2 linked regions of the Homo sapiens genome follow. The protein of the gene in region 2 interacts with the protein of the main gene of each other region in a biochemical or structural test. Each region holds a gene or a part of one and is shown on either strand. Other genes may lie near its edges. The genes, in order: UBE2J2 and RNF139.

Evidence for each region.
Region 1: the proteins of RNF139 (region 2) and UBE2J2 form a complex in vitro, tested with the Homo sapiens proteins (one study listed by BioGRID).

The regions. Positions count from the first base shown.
Region 1 is NC_000001.11:1,269,088-1,280,526, reverse strand, and holds the start of UBE2J2 (ubiquitin-conjugating enzyme E2 J2), read left to right. Parts: upstream 1-6,672; 5' UTR 6,673-6,861; exon of another isoform or gene 6,862-7,674; intron 7,675-11,439. UniProt on the Homo sapiens protein: Catalyzes the covalent attachment of ubiquitin to other proteins. Seems to function in the selective degradation of misfolded membrane proteins from the endoplasmic reticulum (ERAD).
Region 2 is NC_000008.11:124,468,674-124,480,808, reverse strand, and holds the start of RNF139 (E3 ubiquitin-protein ligase RNF139), read right to left. Parts: upstream 5,930-12,135; 5' UTR 5,700-5,929; coding exon 5,519-5,699; intron 1-5,518. UniProt on the Homo sapiens protein: E3-ubiquitin ligase; acts as a negative regulator of cell proliferation through mechanisms involving G2/M arrest and cell death.

The sequences.
Region 1 (11,439 bases), on a different chromosome or scaffold from region 2:
CAACGCCATACTGTAACCAGACATTCCCTTCTACTGATAACAACTCTTTTTTTTTTTTATTTATTGAGATGGAGTCTCGCTGTCGCCCAGGCTGGAGGGCAGTGGCGCGATCTCGGCTCACTGCAGGCTCCGCCCCCCGGGTTCACGCCATTCTCCTGCCTCAGCCTCCTGAGTACCTGGGACTACAGGCGCCCGCCACCACGTCTGGCTAATTTTCTGTATTTTTAGTAGAGACGGGGTTTCACCGTGTTAGCCAGGATGGTCTCGATCTCCTGACCTCGTGATCCGCCCACCTCGGCCTCCCAAAGTGCTGGGATTACAGGCATAAGCCACTGCGCCCAGCCTAATTTTTGTATATTTTTTTAGTAGAGATGGGGTTTCACCATATTGGCCAGGCTGGTCTTGATCTCTTGACCTGGTGATCCGCCTGCCTCGGCCTCCCAAAGTGCTGAGATTACGGGTGTGAACCACTGCGCCCGGCCACCTTTTTCTTAAGACAAGGAGAACGACTCCCTTTTGGGTACCCCATTTGGTTTCTAGCTCGGACGTGCGTTCCTAAGGGTCTTCTCTGTTGCTTTTTCTCCCAAAATTAAGCCCAACTGGCTTGTGCGTGCATTTGCATGAGGAACTGAATTGTTCTTTGCATAGATAAATGAGAGACTGAGTTTTCTCAGCTCCAGAAAGAAAGGCATTTTGCTCCTCCCAGCTGAAAGGCGCCCCTGGGTGACTGTGAGCCAAGTGGGAGTATCTCGTGGGCTGATCCCCCACGACGTGCAGCAGCCCCACAGGGAACCCCCCAACACAATTAGTTTAAAAAGGTTTGTCTGCTGGGTGCAGTGGCTCACGCCTGTAATCCCAGCACTTTGGGAGGCCGAGGCGGGTGGATCACGAGGTCAGGTGATCGAGACCATCCTGGCTAACACGGTGAAACCTCGTCTCTGCTAAAAACACAAAAAATTAGCCGGGCATTGTGGCGGGAGCCTGTAGTCCCAGCTACTTGGGAGGCTGAGGCGGGAGAATGGCGTGAACCCGGGAGGCAGAGCTTGCAGTGAGCCGAGATCGTGCCACTGCACTCCAGCCTGGGCGACAGAGCGAGACTCCGTCTCAAAAAAAAAAAAAAAAAAAAGGTTTGTCCAGGAAATGCACATAGGAGCTGGTCACTCTGTGTTTTGAGTCCTCTCGGAGGTGTTGGACTTCTAGAGAGAGAAACAGAGACACGTAAGAGGGCGAAGATGCCTCAGTGGTGACACACTGGGGAGTCCCGCCCACGACCCGTCCACGACCGGCACACTCAACCTGCTCCACGGAACCCCATTCCACAGCTCGGTTCCTCTGCGCCCCACCTGCTCCACGGAACCCCAGTTCCTCCATACTCAACCTGCTCCACGGAACCCCAGGCCACAGCTCAGTTCCTCCGCGCCCCACCTGCTCCATGGAACCCCAGGCCACAGCTCGGTTCCTTTCAAGAAAAAAAAAAGTGGGAAATAAATAATGTAAGCCTCAGCAAAGACAAGAGGGCGACCTCCTTCCAGGCACCCCGCTGGTTTCAGGCGCCTCTACCTGCAAGTGTTGGTATAAAACTGAACATGTCGCGGGCATGCTGGGTTTCCTAGTGCCCCAGCTGGTTCCATATTATGGTCTTTTGGGGCACATTTTAAACTGATGGGCAAATTCCATCCAGGAAAAATTCAGAGCCCAAAGGTCAGCCTGCAACTACAGAACCATAGAGTTCCTGGCCAGGCGCAGTGGCTCACGCCTGTAATCCCAGCACTTTTGGAGGCCAAGGCGGGCGGATCACCTGAGGTCAGGAGTTCGAGACCAGCCTGACCGACAGAGTGAAACCCCATCACTACTAAAAATACAAAAATGAGCCGAGCGTGGTGGCATGCACCTGTAATCCCAGCTACTTGGGAGGCTTAGGCAGGAGAATAGCTTGAATCTAGAAGGCGGAGGTTGCAGTGAGCTGAGATCGTGCCATTGCACCCCAGCCAGGGCTGCAAGAACAAAACTCTGTTTCAAAAAAAAAAAAAAAAAAGAACTATAGAGTTCCTAAGTTCTCTATCTCTCTGTTTCCTTTGCTGCCTGCCTTAAAGCTGCTGTTACACTTTTTGTTTTTTTTAGGTAGAGTCTCACTGTGTTGCCCAGGCTAGAGTGCAGGGGTGCGATCTCGGCGCACTGCAAACTCTGCCTCCTGGGTTCAAACGATTCTCCTGCCTCAGCCTTCCAAGTAGCCAGGATTACAGGTGTGCGCCACCACGCCTGGCTAGTTTTTGTAAATTTAGTAGAGACGTGGTTTCACCATGTTGGCCAGGCTGGTCTTGAACTCCTGGCCTGAGGCAATCCACTCACCTTGGCCTCCCAAAGTGCTGGGATTACAGTTGTGAGCCACCGTGCCTGACCAGCTGTTACTTTTCTACTGAGATGACATCCACAGTTTGCATCTAGATGTTTCTTTCTGTTATTGTTTTTCTAACTAGTGACTTTGTGTTGATATGTCATGGTTAGAGGTGTAAAGCAAAAGCTGTAGGGTTTTTGGATGAGTGTATATGTGTGTTTAGATGTGTTTATGTGTACGTGCGTGGATTCTGATACATGTTTTGTGGCCACAAGGTATCAAAGTGGCTTAAGGAGTATGCATACATTTAGTACATAATAACAAATTTCATGTGACTTAAGTAAAAAATTTTTTTTTTTTTGAGACGGAGTCTCGCTCTGTCCCCCAGGCTGGAGTGCGGTGGTGCGATCTGGGCTCACTGCAAGCTCTGCCTTCTGGGTTCAGGCCATTCTCCTGCCTCAGCCTCCCGAGTAGCTGGGACTACAGGCGCCCGCTACCACGCCCGGCTAATTTTTTGTATATTTTAGTAGAGACGGGGTTTCACCATGTTAGCCAGGACGGTCTCCATCTCCTGACCTCGTGATGTACCTGCCTCGGCCTCCCAAAGTGCTGGGATTACAGGCGTGAGCCACCGTGCCCGGCCAAAAGTATTGGTAAAGTAATATAAGGAGTGTCTTAAAAACTGTCAGCATACATTTTTGTTTGCATTTATTGATTTATAAGGGGTCAAAACTTGGCATAAGCATTGTAAAACTCTAAACCCAGCTGAAGGCCAGGCATGGGGACTCACACCTGTAATCCCAGAACTTTGGGAGGCCGAGGCAGGTAGATCACCTGAGATCAGGAATTGGAGACCAGCCTGGCCAACATGGCAAAACCCCGTCTCTACTGAAAAATACAAAAATTAGCCAGGTGTGGTAGCACATGCCTGTAATCCCAGCTACTTGGGAAGCTGAGGCCGGAGAATCACTTGGACCTGGGAGGGGGAGGTTGCAGTGAGCCGAGATTGCACCATCGCACTCCAGCCTGGGCGACAGAGTGAGACTCCATCTAAAAAAAAAAAAATTATAGGAAAACGTTCTTTCTACAAAAATTCTTATTATAAGGTAAATAATTTTGTCTAATTCAAAGCTTATTTAAAGTTTATGTATAAAATGAGTTAAAAAGAACAAGGAAATAAGAGAGACCAAGGAAAGTTATAGATATAAAGAGGTCTTTTTGTTAAGTAAGGTTAAAAAAAATAATTTTATATGAGAAAGAATCTTGTATGGTAAATTTTTGTCCTTAAATAAATGACTGGTTGTTTAAAAAAAGGGATGTTCAGCACAAACTAGAAAGTCCACATGTCGTGAACGGTCTGTGTAAGCTGCAATACCTTTGGTAAAAAAGGAATTTATAAAAATGTTACATGATAGATCGGGTGTGGTGGCTCATGCCTGCAATCCCAACACTTTGGGAGGCCAAGGAGGGCGGATCACTTGAGGTCAGGAGTTCAAGACCAGCCTGGCCAACATGGTGAAACCCTGTCTCTACAAAAATATAAAAATTAGCCAGGCATGGTGGTGCATGCCTGTAGTTCCAGCTGCTCAGGAGGCTGGGGCAGGAGACTCAATGGAACCTGGGAGGCGGAGGTTGCAGTGAGCCGAGATCATGCCACTGTACTCCAGCCTGGGCGACAGAGTGAGACTCCAACTTTAAAAAAAAAAATTGTTTTAAGAGGTAATGAATGCTGGTCCATGTCCATTCCTATCTGGCCTACAAAATTTAATGGGCTGTAAATCTTTTAACTGTAAGTCCCTGGGTCATAGGGAGTCAAACTGAGGGACAGGATTGACTGAGGGTGGGCAGCCACACTCGCCCAGCAACGCTGAGACACAATAAAGATTTGGTGGACATGGATGTTGCCTCTGGCAAATCTTGGCCAGAAGGGGGTGAATGTAAACCAAAAATTAAATTCTAAGGCCCCCCCAGCCGTCCAAATGGACCCTTCCTCTCAGCCAAGGGCGTTCCAGTGTTAACCTGGGAACTTGTTCAGGCCATGGCGGGAAGGGGTCGTGGGTCATGCCTCCTCCCTTTTGAAATTCAGGAAAAGCTGACTAGCATTAACATCAACACAGGCCTTAAGTCTGATAGGAAACATTAACAATCTATTCTCTCTGAAGCCGGCAACCCGAGGCTTCAGCTGCGTGGAAAACCACAACCCCTTACTGCAACCCAGACATTCCTTTCTATTGATAATAACTCTTTCAACCACTGTCGGTCAGGATCATTTTGAATCTGCCTATAACATAGAGGTCTCCCCACACCACCCCAATTTATCCTGCTCTTTCAGATTGAACCCGTGTAAATAAATCATGTCTCCCTAAAATGTATAAAAGCGAGCTGTGCCACATGCACCTTGGGCACCTCCCGAGATGTCATGGGTGTGTCCTTAACCTTGGCAAAACAAACTTTCTAAAGGGACTGAGACCTTCCTCAGTTTGCACCCTCCAGGCTGGGTTCTCTGTCCCTCAAGCATCCCCTGGCCAGACAATCCCTGCTGTTCAGAGGCAGCCAAGGCTTTCTGGTCCAACCCTGGGGGCTGGAGGAGGTGGGGGCAGGAGGTGGTAACTGGGTTGGGGGATGTTTTCTTGGTTGCCAAAGCAGAGGGTGCCCCCCGCTGCTCAAGATGCTGAGGGTGGTCCCTGTTGTCCTATTCCTGAAGCTGCCAGAGGAAGTCCCTCCGGAGGGCTGGCCCACAGCAGAAGGGCTGCTCCTGCCCTCAGAGGGCAATCTCAGGGTTGAGAAGGTTACAGCCACCATCTGCCACCAACCTAGCTGCTTGTGCCGATCCCACTGGCCAAGGCCATCGGCTCTATGGCTAGAGGCCTGGGCAGCCTGTGTCCTGCTTACCAGAAGGCCACAGATGCGGGTGGGTGGGGTGGTGGGGTCTTGGCAAGACGTGCTGGCCACACCTGTCCGGGGCACCTTCTCCCTGGGGTGTGACTCAGCCATGCTCCTGAGCAGGGGCCTCTGAGTTGAGCCTCGCTGCAGTCTTCCCAGCTGCAGGGCCCCCACAGGTGTGCTGTCATCGCACACTACTGAGGGACAGACAAGGCAGAGCGGGCCTCCATCTGCCGCGGGCCACAGCCGTGAGTGTGCATGCGAGTGGATGTGCTGGTGCCTGTATCTGCGGCCGGTGTGGCTTCCCTCACATAACTTTCCATGCTGTGAAAACAGTTTGGCCTGCCCTGCATGGGAACGGCAGAGGCCTGAGAGGAGGCAGAGGAAGGAGGCTGGATGCTGAGATGTTCTCCGAAGGTGGAGCCGGTGACGGCAGTAATGGAGGCAGGCTGGATTCCCACGGGCTGAGGCTGCGTGGACACTCCTCCTGGCTTCTGCCCCACGGCCTGCAGCAACGTCTCAGACCCACCAAGGTGTCCCAGAGGGCCAGAGTCAGGGCTGAGCATGGACACAGCCTGCCCTCTGCCCGTAGCCACAGCGGGACTGACCCTCAATATTCAGCCACCTTGCTGACCTGTGGTTGTTCCTGAGAGGCAGTCAGGGTTGGGGCAAAGGAGAGGGCCACAGGCAGCCAGGTGGCGAGGTCCACCTCCTGATCCCCCACCAGGGGACCACCCTCAGCTCCCCGCTGTCCTCAGCGGCCTCTCAGGGAGGCGGTGGGCTGCGCGCCTGCCCCCAGCGTCCCACCCCAGCGCCCCGCCACCTACCGCTCTCTCCCAATGTGTCTGGGGTCAGAGAGAGGTGGAGAGGACGCAGCGCCCCGCGCTTTCTGCAGTCTGTCCAAGGGGAGGTCAGGGGCATCCCGGGGCTGGGCAGGCACCTGCAGGGGAGGGTGCTGCGGCGCGGACGTGGGTTGCAAAGAGATGCCACGCGTGTCACTCTCGGGTCCCTGAACGAGAGAGCTCTGAGCTCCCTGGAGCCCAACCCTCCACTGAGCCTCCAGGGGCCCGGGACGCTCCATGCCCGGGCCGCGCCGCGCCTCCCCTAAGGGCCGGGTGGGGCGTGGGAGCGGAGGACAAGGCGGGAGCCGGGAGGCGGGAGGGTCGGGGTTCTTTCTCCACCGGGGTCGCCCTCAGCCGGGCCTGCCGCCCTGGGCCGTGGCACATGGGGAGGGAAGCGCGCGGCTTCGGGGTCTGGGGCTCTCGCGCCCACTAACGGTGCCCGGAGCCGCCCGCCAGTGCGCAAGCGCCGCCCCGCCCCCCGCCCCATCCCCCACCCCGGGGTCGACGGCGACAGAGAGTCGTGGGCGCGGTCCGCCAGTCTGCCTAGAGCGGCCAGCCCTCCCCCTCCCTCCTCACCGCCCCGGACCGCGCACCGGAAGCAGAAGCTAGGCTGGTTCCGCCCCGCGAGCGGCCATCTTGGAGGCTGAGGCGGCGGCGGCGGCGCTGCGGCGGGTTCGGTGGGCCCAATCCCGGGGCGGTGCGGCTGTTTCGGGCGCGGGCCCCGCTTTTCCGCACCCTGCTCCGGCCTCGACTACGGCGAGCCTGAGCGCGGCGGCGGCCCACGCGCAGCGACAGGGAGAGGTGAGCGCGCTCGCAGGCCTGCGCCGGGTCCTCGGGCCCGCTCGTCCCCCCTGCCGGAGCCGGCCACAGCGGCGGCCCGGGGCTGCTGGGGACCCTGCGCGACGCTTCTCCGTTCGCGCCCGCCGCCCGCGGGGCCCCGGCCCGAGCCTGCCTGCGCGGAACCCGAGGTCGGTTACGGCGGGCTCCCGGAGCTCCGGGTCAGGGTCATGTCGGGGACTTGACCACTCGGCCGGGTTTCCCGTCAGCTGGGACACTTGCAGCTGCCCCAGGACGGGCAGCCTCGATCCTGGTTCGTCAGTGGATCACGGGAGTCTGTGTCGGGGGAGGGCTGCCGTCGAGCCCGCCGTCGCCTCGCCCCTGAACTGTTAGACTCCAGACTGCCCCGTAAACCCCGAGAGAAACGAGCGTGCCCGGGACTGTGCTTAGGGCCAGCGTTTCTGGGAAACCCGGGCGGTGACAGTGGGAGACCACCGCCGGCCGGCGAGTGAGACACGAGCCCGGAACAAGTCTCTAAGCGGCGCCGGGCCTCGCCATCCACACCTGCCAGTTCCCTGCATCCTTTCAGCCCCTGGCCAGGTGTCACCTCCTGGCGTCCTTTTCAGTGCCTGCCACTTAGTGCGTGTGTATTTAACTCTAGTCCGGTTGCCATCCTCTTGCCAGACCCAGATAGGAAGCGGCTGAAAGGTCGGGCCTCAGCCCGGTGGGAGGTGGGCAGCGAAGAGTGTACAGCGGGCTTGGCTGGGGCAGGTCGGTGGCCCCGCGCCCTGCTCCAGGGGAACCAGACTGTGTAATCTGGCTTCCGAAGAAAGGATCGTGAGTATCTCGCTTAGTCTAGCACCTGAGCCTAGGGCGTGGTTGGGTCTGGGTGCCCGGAACTTGCAGTCCGTCATCTGCACGGCCTGGCACCGCTGACCTCCTTAGCAGTTCCACTCTCGGCAGGGATGTGCGTGAGTGACAGGCAGGTGAGCCAGGCAGGTAGGTGAGTGCTTGAGTGACAGGCAGGTGAGCCAGGCAGGTAGGTGCGTGGATGAGTGACAGGCAGGTGACCCAGGCAGGTGCATGTGTGAGTCGCAGGTGAGTGTCCCATTTCCATCGGCCCGGGCTTCCGTCCAGCCTCCGGAGCAGTCTGGTGGAGAAGGCAGAGACTTCCCTGGCAGTCCTGGACCTGGGTGTGCCATGCGCCTGGCCGATGGGTCAGGCCAAGGTTTCCTGCCACATCCCCTAAGCAGGAAAGAGCTGTCCAGACAAAGAGGGACGGGTGAGGGACGCTGGGCAGCCACTGCCTCAGCACCTGGGCACAGCTGCCCTCGGTGATTCACGCTGCTTTAATGCAGTTTCTGTGTGTGAACATTTTTTTTTCCTGTGCCTTTTTGTTTTAAAATCGCCAACTCTTTCTCTCAGCAGGATGATATGCTTGGTGTCCTTTGTCTGTGGGGATGTTTGAAGGGAACCCGAGGCACATATGCTTCAAACTCTGTTCTCACAGTTTGCTTCCTTTGTGGAATTTTTTTTTTTTGATACAGGGTCTCTGTTGGCCCAGCTAGAGTGCAGTGACATGATCTCAGTTCACTACAGCCTCCGGCTCCCGAGTTCAAGTAATTCTCCCACCTCAGCCTCCAGAGTAGCTGGGATTGCAGGTGCCCACCACCACACCCGGCTAATTTTTTTTTTTTTTTTTTTTTTTTTTTTTTGAGACGGAGTTTCGCTCTTGTTGCCCAGGCTGGAGTGCAATGGCTTGATCTTGGCCCACCACAGCCTCCACCTCCTGGATTCAAGTGATTCTCCTGCCTCAGTCACCCGAGTAGCTGGGATTACAGGCACATGCCACCATGCCTGATTAATTTTGTATTTTTAGTAGAGACGGGGTTTTACCATGTTGGTCAGGCTGGTCTCGAACCCCCGATCTCAGGTAATCTGCCTGCCTGGGCCTCCCAAAGTGTTGGGATTACAGGTGTGAGCCACCACGCCCAGCCCCTTTGTGAATTTTTGTTTTCCTTGTCCTTCCTGCTGTCATATTGGGATGAGAAGAATTGGGGGAAATAGCCCCCTGGCCTCCTGGGGGACGTGAGAATGCTGTTCTGTGTGAAGCTCAGGAAGAGTGGCTGGGGAAACAGCAGTTGAATCGTGAACATGATTTTAAAAGCCTCTCCAAGCAGGTATGGGAGAGAAGCTTGTTTGTGACTCATTGGATGGAATCTATTTTATTTTTGCGCGGCTGTCCATGAACTTTCGTTAAACCTGCGGCCTGGCCACTTAGCTAAGCCCAGACCCACCTGCACTTGAATTGTCCAGTGAATTATTTTGTATATGGCAGAGTGTTAGCTTCAGGGTGAGTGTCGAAAGGACAGCCTGTGTGGCGGTGCTGCTTGGGGTCATCACTGTGGCCATCACCAGGTGTTGGCCTGAGGGGAGATCCCTGGCCCATTGGCTTCTTTAGCCAGGAGCTGGGGATGCCACTGTGTGGAAGCACTTCCTTCCCAGGCAGGACTGTAACCCCATCCCTGGTGGGGGCCCTCCTGGGGAGGCACTCCTTAGGCAGAGGAACCCGCTGGGGCCCAGAAGGGCCCTGCGTTGTGTGTGGGGTCACATGGAGGCCAGTGATGTGTGACAGAGTGGGAGGCATTTGGCAGGGAAATCAGGGAGGCCTCTGAAGGCGGTGGCTCTGGCTATGCCGGGAAGGGCCTGGGGAGTTTCCAGTACAGGCTAGGCTGGGAAGCAGCTGTGAGAAGGAGTGTGTCGGTCAGGACTTTGGAGTGGGACCTGGGCCGTGCTGGGTCTTGGGAGTTGGGAACGAGGAGGGCTGGCTGGGGCTGCTCTGTCTTGGGAGCTGGGAATGAGGAGGGCTGGCTGGGGCTGCCTCTGTCAAGGGGCTGGCAGGCAAGAGGACGTGTTGATGTTTATTTGCTTGGCTGTGGAGTATCCTGAAGGGTGGATGGGGGAGTGGGTGATCGGAACAGTATGTTGACTTATGGGTACAGGAGGGCCTTGAAATGGGAAGAGACTAGAAGCTCAGACCTTCTGGACCCACGGGGGGAGTTGGGAGGCTCCTGTGGTGTTGATGGGAGAAGTGATGACATTTTGCGTTAGAGAAGATAATGAGAGTGGGAAGGCTGTGGTGAACAAGGATTGCAAGAGTCAGGGACCCCAGAACAAGAAGCAGGGTTGGGGGTGGTGCTGAGGCCACACATTTGGGAGCACGCGTTGGGTGCCCTGGCTGAGCTCTGCACTCCAGGCCCTGGGTGTGTGGGGTGAGCAGCCAAGCCCTGGCCATTGACATCCTCAGGTTGGGAGCAGACACTAAACAGGCTGCTGGTGGTGGTTCTCTGAGGAGGAATAAACCGGTTAGAGAGGCCAAGTCTGTAGATCTCTTGCAGGTGGAGACTGAAAGGAGGTGGAATGTGTGGCTGTCTACAGGTGTATGAGTTGGTTCTCATGCTGCTATAAAGATGTACCCGAGACTCAGTAATTTATAAAGAAAAGGGGTTTAATGGACTCACAGTTCCGTGTGGCCAGGGAGGCCTCAGGAAACTTACAATCATGGCGGAAGGGGAAGAGGCATGTCTCACATGGCAGCAGGCTAGAGAGAGCGGGCAAGAGCAGGGAACACTGCCTTATAAACCATCAGATCTCCTGAGAACTCGCTTTCACTGGAACGGCTTGGGGAAACTGCTCCCATGATCCAGTCACCTCCCACAAGGTCCCTCCCTCAACATGGGGGATTATGGGGATTACAAGTCAATATAAGATTTGGGTGGGGACATAGCCAAAGCATATCAGCAAGGAAACTGGGTAGAGTAGACTTCCGGTTTGTGGGAACTGGGAGGTCAGGATGGAGATCACTGGTCACTGTCCGTTATCGATGGCCACTGATGTCCACAGACGTTATTAAATCGTGTGGCCATGGCTGGGCGCGGGGACTCACGCCTGTAATCCCAGCACTTTGGGAGGCCGAGGTGGGCAGATTACCTGAGGTCAGGAGTTCGAGACCAGCCTGACCAACATGGTGAAACCCCGTCTCTACTAAAAATACAAAAAAAATTTGCTTGGCATGGTGGCAGGCACCTGTAATCCCAGCTACTTGAGTGGCTGAGGCAGGAGAATCACTTGAACCCAGGAGGCAGAGGTTGCAGTGAGCGGAGATCACACCACTGCACTCCAACCTGGGCAACGAACAGTGAGATTCTATCTCAAAAAAAAAAAAAAAATAAGGTTTGAGTTGGAGCTAGTCTGATGCAGCAGGGAGCCCTGTTTTCATCACCACCCCTCTCCCCAGTCTCAGGTGTGGCTGAGGGGCCTTGGGGTCCCTGATCCAGCCTCCTCTCTTGCATGATGATCACCACCCCTCTCCCCAGTCTCGGGTGTGGCTGAGGGGCTTTGGGGTCCCTGATCCAGCCTCCTCTCTTGCATGATGATCACCACCCCTCTCCCCAGTCTCGGGTGTGGCTGAGGGGCCTTGGGGTCCCTGATCCAGCCTCCTCTCTTGCATGATGATCACCACCCCTCTCCCCAGTCTCGGGTGTGGCTGAGGGGCCTTGGGGTCCCTGATCCAGCCTCCTCTCTTGCATGGTGCCTCGCGCC
Region 2 (12,135 bases):
CCCTAGATAGCTTCAGGATGGGGGCTAGGTAGCCAGGGGAATCAGCCCAGTGATTAAGGGTTATAACTTTGATTCCTACCCCCAGCCGCCACTTCTGGGAAGAAAGAAGCTGAAACTTGAGTCCATAAACCAATGACTAGTGATCTAATCAATCTTGCCTATTTAATGAACTTCCATAGAAGCCCAAAAGGACTGAGTTCTGTGAGCTCTCAGATAGCTGAACACTGAAGCTCCACGCCCCTTCTCCTCTTCTCTCCTTCTTTGTCTCACCTTGTACATCTCCTTCCATCGGGTTAATTCATCTGTGTCCTTTGTAATTGCCTTTATAATAAATGGGTAAATGTAAGTACAGTAGTTCCCCCTTACCCAAGATTTGACTTCCTTTTTTTTTTTTTTTTTTTTTTAGTGATGGAGTCTCGCTCTGTTGCCCAGGCTGGAGTGCAGTGGTGCGATCTTTTGATTAACATAGGTTTTTAACCTCAATATCATTCGGTTTATCAATCTTCATTATGTATTTGCTTTTATATATTTTTAAGGATTTCTTCCTTAATCTAAGATTGGAAAAATAAAATATTCCATATTTTTTTCTAAAAATTTAAAGTTCTGCATTTCATATTTACATATACATCTAGGTAAGAATACACTTAGAAATGACTATTTTTTTTTTTTAAGAGACAGGGTCTTGCTCTGTCACCCAGCCAGGCTGGAGTGCAGTTATGCAATCATAGCTCACTTGCAGCCTTGAACTCCTAGGCCCAAGCGATCTTCTCACCCCAGCCTCCTGAGTAAGATAGGACTACAGGCACCCACCACCAAGTATGGCTATTATTTTAAATATTTATTTTTGCAGAGACAGGGTCTCACTACACTGCTCAACCTAGAAGTGACTGTCTATATATTGACATAAGGTAGACATCTAGTATAATTTATTTCCAAAGGTGTAACAAAATGATCATTAATTCAACAGTCCATATTTACCTCAATGTACTTCAATTCTATCTCTGAAACACATTATTTCTATATATACATTGGTGTCTGTTTCTGGGCTATGTAATTATAAATAAGGCTAAGTACTAATCTATTTGTCTATCCCAATGGTTCTCAACCATGATTTGGCAATATCCAGGGACAGTTTTGGCTGTCACACTGGGGTGTGGGGGTGCAAGGTGCTACTGGCATCTAATGGGCAGGGGATAGTGATGCTGCTAAAAATCTTACAGTGCACAGGAGAGCTCCCATCCGCAAACAAAGAATTATCCTGTCCAAAATGTCAATACTGCCACTGTTGAGAAATCTCTGTCTATTCCTCTGCCAGTGATAATTACTTCGGCTTTGTTTTTTCACTTCAGAGGTTTTCTGAAGTCTTTTTCGGCACCAAAAATAGCTATCTCATTTCTTTCAAGAACTTTATTGCATGGCTAGACCTAATACAATGAACAGATTTGTATCAATACATATTTAGATTAAGTTTGTTGCTTTGTTATTTCCAGTAATGCTTGCCCATAGTCCTTAAGCAAACTATCTCTCTAGGCCAATTCCCTAGAATTGAAATTGTGAGTCAAAAGTTGTACGAGCCAGGCATCCCAGCTACTTGGGAGGCTGAGGCAGGAGAATCGCTTGAACCTGGGAGGTGGAGGTTGCAGTGTGCTGAGATCACGCCACTGCACTCCAGCCTTGGTGACAGAGTGAGACTGTCTCAAAAACAAAACAAAACACTGAGAAGTCAGTTGTAAATGACAGTTGATACTGCCAAATGGTTTTACACTGAAATTAAGAGTCTTCCGGGCCAGGCACGGTGGCTCACGCCTGTAATCCCAGCACTCTGGGAGGACGATGTGGGCAGATCACCTGAGGTCGGGAGTTGGAGAACAGCCTGACCAACATGGAGAAAACCTGTCTCTACTAAAAATAGAAAAAAATTTGCCGGGGGTGGTGGCGCTTGCCTGTAATCATCCTAGCTACTCGGGAGGCTGAGGCCGGAGAATCGCCCGAACCTGGGAGGTGGAAGTTGTGGTGAGCCGAGATCACGCCATTGCACTCCGGCCTGGGCAACAAGAGCAAACTCCGTCTCAAAAAAAAAAAAAAGTCTTCCAAAATTGTATAAATTTACCTATTTCAAAAAGGTAAATACCTTTGCAAAACTAATAAAACTTTGAACTCTTCACCAATCTGATAAATTTTTTTTGACTTTTTTTTTTTTTTTGAGACAGTCTCGCTCTATCGCCCAGGCTGGAGTGCAGTGGCGCGATCTTGGCTCACTGCAACCTCCACCTCCCCGATTCGAGAGATTCTCGTGCCTCAGCCTCCACAGTAGCTGGGACTATGGGCAGGAGTCACTGCACCCGGCTAATTTTTTGGTAGACACGGGTTGTGCCATTTGGCCAAGCTGGTGTCAAACTCCTGGCCTCAAGCAATCTGCCTGCCTCAGCCTCCCAAAGTGCTGGGATTATAGGCGTGAGCCACCGTAAGCGGTCTTGACAGTATTTAATTATAAACAAGGCTAGGTACTTTTTTTTTTCCCCCATAAAATCAAGCTACTGCAGGAAGGGCTAAATACTTTTTCTCTTGCTTATTGAACATCTGCATTTTGTTTATTGTGAATTGCTTGTCTTAGGCATTTTCCTAAGGGAGTATAAGTTTTTTCTTGTTTTGTTTTGTTTTTTTTTTTAGACAGAGTCTCACTCTATCCCCAGGCTGGAGTGCAGTGGAGCGATCTCGGCTCACTGCAACCTGCAACTCCCTGGTTCAAGCGATTCTCCTGCCTCAGCTTCCCTGGCAGGGTAAAACTCTTACTGGAACGTGAATCACTTATGATAGAAGTATTTTATCTCAGTTTGTCATTTAAGGATTCTTTTTTAAGCTTTGCCATAAAAAAGCTTTTTATTTTTATGTACTGAAATTTTTCAGATTTTTCCTTGGAACTTCTGGGTCTTCTGTTATGTTTAAAGCCTTTTCCCACCTCAATGAATTATCACCATATTAGTAATACTATTAAAACAAACTCCTAGGCTTGCATTTTCTGCCTTGGATTTAAATTTGCTAACTCAGCATTATGCTGCTCTGGGTTGAGTTTCGTTTAGTATTTAACATCCCTTAAAACACAGCTTTATGTTCTTCAATATTCCATATATTGTCATAGAATTTTATTTGGATCTCCAAAATGAGTTGCTTTATTTTCTAACCGGTTGAAATCTCAAATTAGTTTGATATCAAATGAAGGTACAGTTGTAGCACCATTTTGTAGGTAGAGGGGAGTAAATACTTCTACCACCACACATAAAACTGGTAATGCTTTTTACTTAGAGATTTCCATTTTTACACATTAATTTTAAAGAAAAAAGTGAGGTTGACAAGTGGTAAGACTTATACACAGTAGTACTGAGAAGTCTACAACTACAAAAAAACTAACAAGGCAGAACGATTAATTTCAACTATCCATTGGCATATTTACACACAAACCTGTGTCTTTTAGTAACATAATTTTTTAGCACCGAAATCAGTTTTTTTCATTCTTATCATCCTTACAAATGTGAAAAATTAGCATAATTACATGACACAGTAAGAAGAGTCGGATGATAGATTTGAAGAGTATTTCGTATTTCTCAAAGTCTGATCCAGAGATTCCAGGGATCAAAATTTTCAAATAAACAACACCAATATTTTGCCGATGATTTCAAAAGACCAAAATATCTAACAAAATATGGTATTAAATGAAGCATTAAAATAGATTTATTGTCTTTAACACCCTATGAAACAGATAACCTCACTCTCCATCTTTTAAAAGGTAAAAATAAGAAACCAAAGCACTGAGCAGTTGCCTTAAGTCATGTTGTTCTTTGTCAAACACAAACTTCCAAGATTTATTACAAAAGAAACATGCCTAGTACAAGGAAAATATCAGATTGCTTTGTTCAATGTTCTTACACTACAAATTATTTAATTAAAGAAAATACTTCTTTTCCTTGAAGCTGCCTAACCTGAAGCTCAACAGACTACTGCATTAAAGCACCAGGTCCCAAAGGGATTCTCACAGAATCTGCAGTTATCATGCTGTAAGAATATTCAAAGCAGTCACTACACTGTTTCTGGGATGAACATGCAGAATCCTCTCAAACAGAGCCCAGTTTTTAACACAAATTATGGTGGTGGTATACGTTAGCAGTGGCAAGTAGGAAAGGCTGGAATTAGGTAGCAGGTGGGTTACTGAAGCAGCTTGGGCTGAACATCACGTTTACATCTTTAGTTTTAAGATCTAGCATATGATCATTACTACTGCATTCTGTATCTGGATTGCAGCTGTTAGGGAGGAAAGTAAACCATATTTAATGTCAAAAGATTTTTAAGCTCAGGCTCTGGCAACCACTTAGCGGCAGCCTACCAAGAGCAAAACACTTAACCTCTATGACCCTGTTTCCTGGTTTGTAAAATGACAATACCACCACCCACCTCTGGGGGATGTTTGAAGGTTAGGTTAGATAATACCTACCAGTGAAAATGCTTTGCAAAAGGAAAATACCAGATAAATGTAAAATATGGCTATTTATTGCTAAGAACAAAATTCGGCCTTTATTGCCACTCCTCTTTTGAAGGAATAAAGCAACAGATGGCTTGTAATTCAGAAAGGCTTGGTAAAGACCTCACCATCAGTCTGCCCTCAGCAACACTTCAAAAGCACTAGCCTACTTAAGACCGATCACCAGAATTACCTCATCAACAAAATTTGCCAAGTTACAATTACTTAAAAAATTATTTTACGCATAAATGCATCTCCCTCTGATGATGTAAGTGAAGATGGAAAGGAAGAAATGAAATATAAGATACTTTTAACACTCCATCCATACGAAACAAAGACAATGATTTTCAGAAGTCTCTTTGGCAAATGTCTCATCACTTTTTACAGTCACTTTCAATACCTTCTCGTTTATTCATGGAAAATTTTAGGACTCGATTTAAGCATCGCCGCTTTCATGAGAATTTTTGGTAATGGTTTCAAGGTCTGACATTCAAAACCCTGTCTCCTTCGCTTGGATGTCATTTACTGCAGACACTTCACGATCCTGTGGACCCTCGGGTGCAGCAGAAGTGACAACATACAAGTACTCGGCATTTGGTAATAAAGGGAAACTGAGGCCCACGCCTTGGCAGAAGTCCAAGGTCACACACGACGAGACTGGGATAGCAGAGTTGTTTTTCGAAGGCTGTCGCATAGGACGCGGTAAGCCAGTACTCATTTCCCAAGGCAAACGGGCAAAGAGCTGCATGCTCACACATCCTTACTTTCTCCCCACCTCACTCAGGTACAACACTGAATCCTCGCTAGGGGGACTGCTCCGCTGTCAACTCAGACAAGTATCATCTCCTTCCCCCTCCCAACCCGTAAAGACGACCCTTTGAGGGATGAAACTGTAGTTCCCAAAGACACATACTCGACCCATGGCCTCTGCGCGCCTGCCCGCTCCCCGGGGAACGTCTCGGCCCGCATAGCCGTCCCGGGACGTACGGTACCCTGTTCCCTTACCAAAGAGCCGGAGGAAGATCTGGAGCACGATGCAGAACCGGCTTTGGCTGGAATCCGGGTAGGAGTTGAAGATGGCGTCGATGATGTAAAGGCAGGGCACCCGGAGCGCCACTTCGAGCGCCGCCCAGACCTGCTGATGGGCCATCCGCACCTGCTGCTGCGGGGGCCCCACGGCCGCCATGAGCCGCTGCCACACCAGGGCTCGGTGGGCCGGGCAGGGCCGCGCGGGGCAGGGCCCGGGGCCGCGGCCGGGGGCGGGGGCTAAGGCGGGCAACTCCGCCCCTGCCCTCCTTCCTCTCCTGTCTCTCTCACGGCCAGCCCCGCCGCCCGCTCGCGTCCCTCGAGGTGGAGCAGGCGGCGGAGGCAGCGATGGCCGAGAGGGCGGCGGCGGCGGCTCCCCAGGAGGTCTCTGGGTTTCGGTGTTTCCGGCTGGCTAAGGTCTGACTCCTCCTCCCTCCACTGCCTCCCCCGCCCGCGGAGCCACCATCTTGACCTCGCCCGCTGGCCTCTGCCGTTGCTGCTGTGGCTAGGCCCGGAGGCTGCGCCGTCAGTCAAGCGAACCGCAGAGTCCGCGCCCACTGCCTGCGTCATAATCCAGCGTCATAATCCAGCGCTAGAGACGCTCCCCATGTCGTCATCACCCATGGTTGCCATGGTTTCCGCCCACCTCCTCAGCTTACTCTAGCTTCGTGCCACCCCGTGGCGCATGCGCTTTTCGGTAGCCGCGCTTTCCGGCGTTGGAGTTGCAGCTTCACCCTCGCAGATTCGGCTTAGCGAGCGAGTCGGTGCTTCCGCGGATCAAAATTATTAGCCGTTTTATTAGAGCCCATTAAACGTTGCATAAACATGGTTCAGAGCTGCCTGGGAGAAGAAAAGCCAAAGGATGCCACCCTCTCGATTTATCCCACCCTCGGGAGTCTGAAAGCCGACGCCAGGAGAAATCCCGCGAAGGCCGCCCGGGATCCTGGTAGAGGCGACGCTGTGTGCGTTTATGGAGCGCTTGCGGTGCGTGGCACTAGGCTGGGTGTGGTGGGTGCTGCCGAAAAAAGGGTTCCTCCCATCCATTTGCACGTCACCCTTCCCACCTCCTGCCCAGATGGACAGAAGTGAGGACATTCATCGGCCGCATTTTACTAATGGCAAGGAGATAGCGACTGAAGGGCAAGAACCTAGGGTTTCCTGTCTTTGATATTTCTCATCTTTGAGGTAAGTACACCTGGACAGTCCCTTCCTTCCTCCTCAGGGCTCATGCTTTCTTGCCTATCCGTGTAATTAATATGATCTGGCTATCTTTGTCTTTGTTCCGAAACTTCAGCTGCAAATGAAAGTGTAAGTTAGGTCTGAGTCTGCACTATAGACCTAGCTATCCTAGGTTAAAGGGGATAAAATAGGAATCAAGAAGCCTGGCCCGCTTGGGCTCCCAGCTCAAGTGCATTCTGCAATCCAGTTTATATTAGGCCTCCATGTGGGTGGCTATCCTTTATCAAGATCCCCCCCAGGGGGAGGAGGATTATTAGTCACATTATCAAACTCCCCTCCAACCCCTTTCTCTGCTTAGAGGTATGTGTAATGTGTAGTAGAAAGACCGAATCCCCACCCAAAAGTCCTTACTGCTACTCATGTTTTTAACCTTCTGTTCTTTACCCTACTCCCTAATAATGACCGCCATCATTTATCTACTGCTTAATGGATACTAGGCACTGTGCTAAGGGTTTTATGTTTTACTTCAATCTTTTCATCGGCTTTATTTTGATAGTTTGTTTTATAGAGGAGGAAACAGACTTAGGTAAGTTACAAGATGACAAGGTTACTACCTTGTTCAGTTAGTAGTCAGCAGCTAGTATATCCAAAGATAGTACGAGTCAGAACTAGGATTATAAACTCAGGGCTACCTGAAACTCACAACTTCAGGCATCTTTGATTTCTTCTTTTCACCCACAGCCAATTCTTCAACTAAATTGTATCCATTCTGTTTTCACCGTCTCTTGTACTGGTCTCCTTTCTATTGTAACTGTCATCATCCTAACTCAAGATCCTTCTGTAGCTTTCCCCGGTTATTGGAATATCCTTATTACGACTGCCACCTTTTCTAATCCAGTCTGTTTACTACTGCCGGGTTAATTTCCCCAAACTGCATGTCTGGGGAATAACCTTGTGGTTATGACAGAATTCCCAAAGGAAAGCAAACTTGGCAAGGTGCAAAGACTATGAAGACTTAGAACTTAAGAGTTCTATGGAGATCTTCAGAAATATAAATTAGCTACTCAACATATCTGTTATTCTGCCCTGATTGCACTGTAAAGCAAAAGGAGAGAGGCCATTATGGGGAAAAAGATCCAAAAGGACTCATCTAAAACACAAGTTGGGTAGAGGAGATAGGTGAGTACTATTATATTATGTTCATGGAAAATGAGTTCATGGGCTTTCCTCTAATTTTTATTTTAAAAATAAATGTAAATATTAAATAAAATTTTTTAAATGAACAAATGCTTCAGTCTTTATTAATGTTTTAACTGTCCCTGATCTTAATTTGATGTACAAATTTTATTAGTGTAAGAGTTTCTTTGACTAAATTCCATCTTGGGCCGAGAACTTTCAGGAGCGGTGGCAGTCTTTTTTTTTTTTCACACAGCTTCTCCAAGCAGGCTCTCTGCCAAACTTGTCCAACCCACCTTATTTTGTTACTGTTGTTGTTCTGTTTTGTTTTAGGCTGTTAACAGCCTGAAGCCATGGTTTTTAGTTTCTGTTTCTAGTGATAAGCGGAAAAGAGAGATGAGGAGGTATTTACTGACCCAACCAGAAGCGGAAACTAAGAACCCATGACTGTATTATCTCCCTTGGACACCCCTGTGTGAGCTCTCTTTCTCCATCTATAAAATGAAGGTTTGAATGAGGTCCTGGCAACTGTGTTAAAATACTACGTTAAAATTAAATTTATAGTAATGAGGTAATTTATAGGATGCTTAGGAATTTTTAAGATAAAAGATGTTTCCAGCTGGGTGTGGTGGCTTATGCCTGAAATCCCGGCACTTTGGGAGGCCAAGGAGGGTGGATTGCTTGAGCCAGAAGTTCAAGACGAGCCTGTCCAACAAGGCAAAACTATATCTTTACAAAAAAATTGTAAAAATAGCTGGATGTGGGCTGGGCGCGGTGGCTCACACCTGTAATTCCAGCACTTTGAGAGGCCGAGGCGGGCGGATCACAAGGTCAGGAGTTCGAGATCAGCCTGGCCGACATGGTAAAACCCCCATGTCTATTAAATATACAAAAATTAGCCGGGTGTGATGGTGGGCACCTGTAATCCCAACTACTTGGGAGGCTGAGGCAGGAGAATTGCTTAAACCCGAGAGGCGGAGGTTGCAGTGAGCCAGGATGGCGCCACTGCACTGCAGCCTGGGTGACAGAGTGAGACTCTGTCTTGGGGGAAAAAAAAATAGCTGGGCATGGTGGCATAGGCCTGTGGTACCAGCTGCTCAGGAGGCTGAGGTGGGAGGATCACTTGAGCCTGCCTTGAGCCTGGGTAGCAGAGGTTGCAGTGAGCCAAGATCACGCCACTGTACTCTAGCCTGGGTGACAGAGTGAGACCCTGTCTCAAAAAAAAGGTAATGTTTCCAAGAAATAGCTACAATTCACTGAATCTAATCTTTGCTTGATTTCTGCATTGATTTGAATGTTGCACAACTCAGGTGTACATTTATATTGAGTCTGCACAGTGTGGTTCATGAGTGTGTGTGTGTGTGTGTGTGAATACACACACACACAAACTGTATACATAGAATACTCGTGTTTGAAAATAACAATCTGTTATAAATCCTTCAGATTTAACAGCTCAGAAAGCCTTTTAGTAGCTTTCAAAACTTTTACAGGTAGGATGTGTAAAAACTAGTTTGAATTTTCTCTTGACATTTGCATTAATGAAGTCTTTGTTTCCTACAACAGAAACTGATTCTTCTGGGTTATCTTAAGCAAAAAGGGAATTTATTAAGGGGTTATTTTCATTATTCCTCAAGATTTCAAGTCCCAGGAGAGACCACCTATATTAGGCCATTCTTGCATTGCTATAAGTACCTGAGGCTGAGTAATTTATAAGAAAAGAAGTTTAATTGGCTCACGGTTCTACAGGCTGTACAGGAAACCTAGTGCCTGCATCTGCTTCTGGGGAGGCCTCAGGAAGCTTTTGCTCATGGTGGAAGGTGAAGTAGGATCAGGCACTTCACATGGCAAAAACAGGAGCGAGGGGGTGGGGATAGGTGTCACACACTTTTAAACAATCAGATCTCATGAGAACTCACTATGGTGAGGACAACACCAAGCCATCAGGGATCAGTCCCCATGACCCAAACACCACCAGGCCCTACCTCTAACTGGGAATTACATCTCAACATGAGATTTGCAGGGGAGATCCAAATTACATCACCATCCAATTGGTCAAGCTTATTGGATCATGTATCTGCACCCTAGCTTCTGTAGTGGGAGGAGGCAGTAGGAAACATGCACTTGGATTTAACCCCTTCACTCCCCACTTCTACTAATATGTATTTTCTTCAAGTGGAAGATAGGGATACTGGTAGGAAGGGTAGTGTCCTAGTCTGTATTCTGTGGTTTATAACAGAATGCCTGAAACTGGGTAATTTATAAAGAAAAGGAATTCATTTCTGGCAGTTAGGGAGGAGGCTGAGAATTTCAAGGTGGAGGGACCACATCTGGGGAGAATCTTGTTGCTGGTGGGGACTGCAGGGATCAGGGGGGCTGAGCATGCCCACTCAGGCCTTTCTTCCTCTTTTTATGAAGCCACCAGTCCCAGGCCAGGCACGGTGGCTCACGCCTGTAATCCCAGCACTTTGGGAGGCCGAGGTGGGTGGATCACCTAAGGTCAGGAGTTTGAGACAAGCCTGGCCAACGTGGTGAAACCCCATCTCTACTAAAAATACAAAAAATTAGCCTGGCGTGGTGGGAGGCTGAGGCAGGAGAATCGCTTGAACCAGGGAGGCAGAGGTTGCAGTAAGCCGAGATCACACCACTGCACTCCAGCCTGGGCAACAGAGCAAGAGTCTGTCTCAAAAAAAAAAAAAAAAAAAAAAAGCCACCAATCCCACTCTTATAGTAACCCATTAATCTATCAACCCATTAGTCCATGAATGGATCACCAGCCCTCATGACCCAATCACTTCTTAAAGGCCCCACCTTTCAGTACTGCCATATTGGGGATTAAGTTTCCAATGCATGCAATTTGGGGGACACATTCCAACCAAAGCAAGTAGGATTGATGGTGAAAATATATGCCATAACTTTTTCTCAGACCCTGGGAATTACTGCAATTGATCTCTTATCCTAAATTACTTTATGGTTTTTCTCTTCTCATTAAAGTAAATTCAGATGTGCCCATCAAAATTCTATTTGAATTTTCTGGTTTTGTAGATGCCAAATAAATAGTAAGAGTTTGTTTTTGCTACTTCTACACTGCTGTGTATGTAGAAGTGGGAATGTAAACTAGTACAACCACTATGGAAAACAGTGTGGAGACTCCTTAAAGAACTAAAACTAGAATTACCATTTGATCCAGGATTCCCACTACTGGGTTATCTACCCAGAGGAAAAGAAGTCATTACATGAAAAAGATACTTGGACATGCATGTTTATAGCAGCACACTTCGTAATTGCAAAAATGTGGAACCAACCCAAATGCCTATCAATCAATGAGTGGATAAAGAAACTGTGGTATAAATATATGACAGAATACTACTCAGCCATAAAAAGGAATGAATTAATGGCATTCGCAGCGACCTGAATGAGATAGGAGACTATTATTCTAGGTGAAGTAACTCAGGAATGGAAAACCAAATATCATATGTTCTCATAAGTGGGAGCTAAGCTATGAAAATGCAAAGGCATAAGAATGACATGATAGAATTTGGGGACTCGGGGAAAGGGTGGGAAGAGGGTAAGGGATAAAAGACTACAAATTGGGTTCAGTGTATACTGCTTGGGTGATGGGTAGACCAAAATCTCACAAATCACCACTAAAGAACTTACCTGTGAAACCAAATACTACCTGTTCCCCAAAAACCTATGGAAATAAAAAATATTTTAAGTTTGTTGCATAAGTTAAAGGAAACAACAGAGAATATAGTGGTATTTGAAGTAAATGTTGAGTATATACTGACTGTGGTTTGTTCATTCAGCAGACATTTACTGAATACTTTCTATGTGCTTGGCAGTATGCTAGCCCTCTTCTGCCTCTTTCTAGTTCTGTGTCTTGAGGCAAAGTATTTAAGCTGTCTAATCTTTAGTATCATTTGGGGAAAAGAATATTGCCACATAAGATATGAAATACATGACATGCACTATCCAATTTAGCCCTCACCAAACTTGTCCAAGGACACAGAACTAATCAGTCAATAGTAGTGGCAGAGCCAGGTTTCTGATTCATATTTTTCTGATTCCAGAGCCTAAGATCTGATCCTCTGCAAGTATGTTCTCTTGCTTTTTTACAAGAATTAAAGCAATACATCTTAAATACCTAGTATAGCATGTAGTAAACCAATTGTAGGAGATACACTCATTGGAACCCCTGTTACTACACACAGCACTTTGCAGTGCACAGCACTTTGCAGTGA